2 separate regions of the Homo sapiens genome follow, and region 2 is reported to be linked to region 1. Evidence: microRNA targets listed by miRTarBase, many of them from high-throughput screens and not tested one by one. Region 1 holds a microRNA gene; the other region holds the end of a gene's coding sequence.

Region 1 (3,516 bases):
GTGGGGGGTTGGGCTTCGTGGGGGCAGGACGCAGTCCCGGGGCGTCTATAGAGCAGGCTTTTGTGGAGGGCTCTAAGGGGGCGGGCCCTAAGGGAGCTGGGCTCTTTGAGGACTGGCTTAGGGGTTTGGCGGTGGGCTCCGTGGGAGTCTATATGGGCGGGTTTTAGAGGGAGTGTGTTCTGGGGAACAGGTCAAAAGCGACGGGGCTCTAAGGGGCAGGGCCTGGGCTGGGGCCTTGGCTGGTGGCTCCAGACTGTGGGTGGGGCTCTCGGGGGCGGGGCTCTCGGGGGCGCGTCCTCGGGGGCTCGGCCGGGTTCCGTTGCCACCACCGTGAGGGGTGTGGTGGGGGGGTGGTTCACGCAGCTCGGCACACTTGGGGGTCCCTCATCTACCTTGGGGTTATGCCAGGCGGTTATTTTGGGCCTCAGTATTCCCCTCGGTGAAATGCCAGGGGCCAGGAAATTACTTATTTTTTTGCGACGACGGGGTCTCGTCCTGTGACCCAGGCTGGAATACAGTGGCGCGATCACGGCTCACTGCAGCCTCGAGCCTCGAACTCTTGGGGTCCAAGCGATCCTCCCATCTCAGCCTCCTAAGTAGCTAAGACTACAGGCTCACTACACCACACCCAGCTAATTTTTTTGTAGGGACAGGTATCTCGCTATGTTGCTCAGGTTGGTCTCCATCTCCTGGGCTCAAAAGATCCTCCCGCCTCAGCCTCCCAAAATACTGAATTACAGGCCTGAGCCGCAGCACCCGGCCATGCCGGGTGCACCTTCCTAGGCCGTCCGCAGACCCAGGTCAGGGGCGAAGGCGCGCTCGCCCATCCCTGGTCGTCACTGCTTGGCTTGCGGGGGGTGGGAGATAGGGGTGCGTACCTGTAGGCCTGGGGGCACCCGGGGCGGGGGGGTGGTCGCCGAACTCTGTGCGATCACTGGAGGAAGGGACTGGGGGTCATTTGAGGGATGAGGAAATGGAGAGGGGGCGCCGCAGCCGGTTTTGAGGCCCAAGGGGCAGCCCCCACGTGGCTGCGCGGACTCCCTCCGGAAGTGCCCGAGTTCAGATGCTGTGTGACCGCGCACGCGGGGCGAGCGGCGCCCTCTCTGAACCTCCTGCCTCTCCCCTGTCTAGTGGGGCCCCAGTGCACTTGTAAAGTGGAGAGACCTGACGACCCCCCACCCCCAAGCGCTCCACTCACGCTGTTGTGATTCCTAAACCATCGTGCCCGGAACTCAGTGAAGCTCCCAGAACGTATTACATTGTATTAAAATGGCTTGTTTATCTCCACGTTGCATCAATGCCCTCGGGGCCAGGATCCTCCGTTGCCAGACTTCCCGGGAACACTTGGAATGCCTCCTCCACCTCGGACTAGCAGTGGCCTTTGGCCTCAGTCTCCCCAGTTGACAAAGGGGGGTAATCTGCACCTCCAGGATCACTTTGTGAATTACTTAAGGAGCGGGCTTGAGGCCAGCACTCCCCTGCACTGCTACATCTCCATCCCCATAGCAAAGGCTACATTTTATTTACTAGCATTTATATTTGCCTTGTGTTTTTCCCAGATCTAGGTGCAAACAGCACCTGAAAAGCGTTTGTTTATTTCATGAGAGAAAAGGGGTTCCTTACTCTCTCCTCCTCTCCCTCTTCATGCTCTCTGGTTCCCTGCCACCTACCCCACCCCCGACTCCAGGTCCCGGAAAATTTGCCAAGGGTTTGGGGGAACATTCAACCTGTCGGTGAGTTTGGGCAGCTCAGGCAAACCATCGACCGTTGAGTGGACCCTGAGGCCTGGAATTGCCATCCTCCTGCCGGTGACTCTGACCTTCCAGATCTAGGGGGGCCTGGGGAGCCCCCAATCCAGCCTGGGCACGTCCCCTCCCCTAGGCCACAGCCGAGGTCACAATCAACATTCATTGTTGTCGGTGGGTTGTGAGGACTGAGGCCAGACCCACCGGGGGATGAATGTCACTGTGGCTGGGCCAGACACGGCTTAAGGGGAATGGGGACTGGGGACAGGACCCCCCACCGCCACAGTCACTCAGCCTGTTTTTTGCCCTGACCCCAACCACTCCTCTTTGGAGAGGAGAGCTGGTGTCTGGAATCTGGATGGGCTCTGGCTGGATTTGGGACTAAATATTAGAGGGTTGGGGGTAAACAGGCTGGGGCAGGGCAGCTAAAATCCCCTTTTTTTTTTTTTTTTAAGACAGAGTCTCACTCTGTTGCCTAGGCTGGAGTGCAGTGGCCCAATCTCAGCTCACTGCAACCTCTGCCTCCAGGGTTTGAGTGATTCTCTGGCCTCAGCCTCCCAAGTAGCTGGGATTACAGGCATCTGCCACCACAGTGGGCTAATTTTTGTATTTTTAGTAGAGACGAGATTTCACTGTGTTGGCCAGGCTGGTCTCAAACTCCTGACCTCAAGTAATCCTCCCCCCTCGGCCTCCCAAAGTGCTGGGATTACAGGCATGAGCCACTTTGCCTGGCCTAAAACCCCTTTCTGAAATGTGGGTGGTAAGTTCTGCTCCGTGGAGTGCTCCATAGTTTTGTTTTTTAAATTAGAGACAGGATCTCGCTCTTGTCACCCAGGCTGGAGTGCAATGGTGTGACCTTAGCTCACTGCAGCCTCTAATAACTGGAGTCAAGCGTTGATCCTCCCGCCTCAGCCTCCCCAGTAGCCGGAACCACGGGCACGCACCACCACACCTAGCTTATTTCGAAAAAGTGTTTTTGTAGGAACAGGGTCTCAAAACGTTGCCCAGGCTGGTCTCCAACTCCTAGGTTCAAGCAATCCTCCTCGGCCTCTCAAAATGAGCCACAGTGCCTGGCCAATAAAAGTTTCTTAAATGAATGGATGGGTGGATGAGCTGTGTAAGCGGCACAGCGTCTCTCCTCTGTGTCCAAGTCCTGAGCACACCCTCCCCTCCTGGGACTGAGCTGAGATCTCATCTCGGGGAGGACACTGAAGACCTGTAGGTACTAGGGGTCCCCTCCTAACAGCCCAACTTGCTATCCCCCACCTCCCAACTCCAGAGGGTTCTTTCTCACCCCTCTGCAGCCCCCGCCAGGAAAGGGCTCCCTCCCCAGCACCTAGCCTCAGGGGGCCCCAGTAACTAGAAGAAGGAGGCAGATGTGGTGCTTTTTGTTGTTGTTGTTTTGAGACAGAGTCTTACTCTGTTTCCCAGGCTGGAGTGCAGTGGCTTGATCTTGGCTCACCGCAACCTCTGCCTCCTGGGTTCAAGCAATTCTTCTGCCTCAGCCTCCTGAGTAGCTGGGATCACAGGCACCCGCCACCATGCCCAGCTAATTTTGTGTGTGTGTGTGTGTGTGTGTGTATTTTTAGTAGAGACAGGGTTTCACCATGTTAGCCAGGCTGGTCTCGAACTCTTGACCTCAGGTGATCCGCCTGTCTTGGCCTCCCAAACTGTTGGGATGACAGGCATGAGCCACCACTCCCTGGCCTGGTGCATGTCTTTATAAATAACTGGATGGGCAGGTGGCTTCACACCTCAGTTTGCTCATCCA
Region 2 (3,000 bases), not on the chromosome of region 1:
AGGAGGAGCTGTGGTCGGACAGTGAACACAACTTCCTGGACGAGAACATCGGCGGCGTGGCCGTGGCCCCAGCCCACGGCTCCATCCTCATCGAGTGTGCCCGGCGGGAGCTGCACGCCACCACGCCGCTTAAGAAGCCCAACCGCTGCCACCCCACCCGCATCTCGCTGGTCTTCTACCAGCACAAGAACCTCAACCAGCCCAACCACGGGCTGGCCCTCTGGGAAGCCAAGATGAAGCAGCTGGCGGAGAGGGCACGGGCACGGCAGGAGGAGGCTGCCCGGCTGGGCCTGGGCCAGCAGGAGGCCAAGCTCTACGGGAAGAAGCGCAAGTGGGGGGGCACTGTGGTTGCTGAGCCCCAGCAGAAAGAGAAGAAGGGGGTCGTCCCCACCCGGCAGGCACTGGCTGTGCCCACAGACTCGGCGGTCACCGTGTCCTCCTATGCCTACACGAAGGTCACTGGCCCCTACAGCCGCTGGATCTAGGTGCCAGGGAGCCAGCGTACCTCAGCGTCGGGCCTGGCCCGAGCTGTCTCTGTGGTGCTTTTGCCCTCATACCTGGGGGCGGGTTGGGGGTGCAGAAGTCTTTTTATCTCTATATACATATATAGATGCGCATATCATATATATGTATTTATGGTCCAAACCTCAGAACTGACCCGCCCCTCCCTTACCCCCACTTCCCCAGCACTTTGAAGAAGAAACTACGGCTGTCGGGTGATTTTTCCGTGATCTTAATATTTATATCTCCAAGTTGTCCCCCCCCCTTGTCTGGGGGGTTTTTATTTTTATTTTCTCTTTGTTTTTAAAACTCTATCCTTGTATATCACAATAATGGAAAGAAAGTTTATAGTATCCTTTCACAAAGGAGTAGTTTTAAATTCCATTTAAAATGTGTATTTATTGGATTTTTTAAAAGCGACAATAGTAATGGTAAAGGATGGGCAGGAAAGGCCAGTAGTGCTCCCCCGCCCAGTCTCGCTGGGTCTGGCGAGCCAAGCCCCTCGGGCGCTGGCGAGGTCCTCAGCCATCTGCCCCTCGAGAGCCAAGCGCGGACGGTAGCCACCCAGTTCATCCCTCCCGACATACACCCCTTCCCTTTGGGGAAGGGAGCCTCAGGACAGCTTCTGTCCTCTCTGATAGGATGGGAGAGTCTGCAGAAAACCATCTGGGGTCCCTTTTCCAGTCCCCGGCTTGGAGTCGAAGGGCAGATGCACCCCAGGCCAGCCCCACGAGATGCTGGCATAGCTTTCCCCAGAAACCAGGTTGGAAGTAGATGGCTTCAAGCTTGCTAGTCTCCACACTGAATCCTCTGTCCGTTATTTATGGAGTCACACGATGTCATGGTTCACTAGGCAGCACCTCACGCTGGAGCTGGAGTGCGAGGTTCTTAGGGGCCGTGCCCACCATGTTGCCAAGCCAATGCATGCTGAGCTGAAGGAATTTGTCTTAGTGGCAGTTTTTTAAAAAATGCCCCCAAAGTCTATGCTGATACTGAAAAAGGGCTACTGTATCTTTAAAAACAGGAAGTTGAACCCAAGCTGTGAAAAGCCAGTGGTGCTCTGTGCATGGTGCTGTGCGGAGCCTGGTGCTGTAGTGTTGTGCTGGGACTTTCTTGACTCTTGGGCAGGTCACATCCTACAGGAGCTCAGCAGACCAGTGTAACAACAGTTAATGCATCTATCCTGATCCCTGAATTTCCACATTGGACAATGGTGCATGCCTCACACCTGAGCCTGCTTCCTCCATGCTGTCATTGGGTTCGGGGGCCTACACTTAACAATTTTAAAGTGCAAGAGTCAAACATTTTCAACAGGTTGCTATAATTTTCCTCCCTAATTGGTGCCATTTCTCCATTTGATCATTTTCTTTTTTTCCTTTCTCCCCTCTTCATCCACTTTAATATAGCTGTTCTGAAATTCTGGTGCATTCATTCGGTTCTTTGAAATGAGAATGTGGTGCTTAATTTTTGTGACGTTGTCGAGAGAGGTTGGGCCTGATGGGAGCAACACTCATCATCACCAAGTCAAACTTTGTTGGAGTGTTGGTTTTTCTTGTGATATTAGCAGAAATGATCTCATGCTAGCCATGTGGATGTGTGTGTGGTGAATGGGGGGCTTCATCAGGACACACAGAGGGGAATGTGGCCACACGGTGGATGACCACCAAGCCCTGAGATGAACAGGTATTTACTGAGCAGTTGTATTCAGATATGGGTCTTCATGAATCATGTTTAACAATCAGATGACCGCTATAGGCAAGTTCCTGAGCTTCCGGGTGCCTTGAGTAAGAGCTGAGAACCGGCCTGCTGGGTGTTTACTGTATCTGTTTGGAAGCACTGGCGGAGGGTCGTTGTAAGATGTCCTGAGCATTTATGTGGTCTGGTTTTAACTGTAAATAGTGAAAGATTTTTTTAAGCACTTTTGCCTAGATTTAAACAGCAACTTGAAAAAAAAAGTATGTTTTAACATGTAATTGTGGGAGAAATTGTAAATAGTAGCCGAATATTTAATGTGCTTTGTCTATCCTCCACTTTTACCATATTCTGTAAAGTTGCATTTATTTTACAGGACAAAAAAATGAAATATTATTGCTTTTGAAATAAATACCCAAGAGCTTATCAGGACTTAGAATTATTCAGAACTCAGATTTATAGGAAAACCTCTGACCTTCAGTTTGACAAGCTAAAGGAAGCAGAGTCTTTAATGAGCATGCTAATTTTCTAGTTTTGAGGAAAAATTGGGTCCTTTAAATGCTATTTTGCTTATCGCATCAGTACTTTTATGCAGGTCTCATTTGACTCCGTGCTTAGGTAGATGCGGGGGTGCCTTGAAAACTTCATTTTAAATGATCTTAAGCAAGAAATACAATATTTTACGAAACATTTGGAGAATGTGACCGTCTGTATGACCCGTGGAAGCCCCAGGTTGGCTGTTGGTTTGGAAGGTCCCGAGTGTAACCCAGGTGATTCTGATACTTGGCATGTGTGAATCTTCCTGAT

What was found. The annotated mature microRNA hsa-miR-181c-3p reads AACCAUCGACCGUUGAGUGGAC and lies in region 1 at 1,756-1,777, shown strand. An mRNA with a match to its seed (bases 2 to 7 or 8) in the 3' UTR can be bound and repressed. Matches are read on the target gene's strand: a 7mer-m8 pairs with bases 2 to 8, a 7mer-A1 pairs with bases 2 to 7 and ends in A, and an 8mer does both.
Region 2: miRTarBase lists TET3 as a target of hsa-miR-181c-3p. The part of its 3' UTR that is shown has no 7-base or 8-base seed match.

The regions. Positions count from the first base shown.
Region 1 is chr19:13,873,008-13,876,523 of GRCh38, forward strand. MIR181C (microRNA 181c) reads left to right here and starts at 1,692; the gene lies at 1,692-1,801. It overlaps MIR181D (microRNA 181d), which reads left to right and starts at 1,868; the gene lies at 1,868-2,004. It also overlaps a transcript of NANOS3 not described here.
Region 2 is chr2:74,101,692-74,104,691 of GRCh38, forward strand. It overlaps TET3 (tet methylcytosine dioxygenase 3), which reads left to right. Exons shown (of 12, transcript NM_001287491.2): 12 at 1-3,000. The coding sequence ends at 485. Among named protein-coding and RNA genes, the nearest start is that of BOLA3, 45 kb to the right of the region's middle.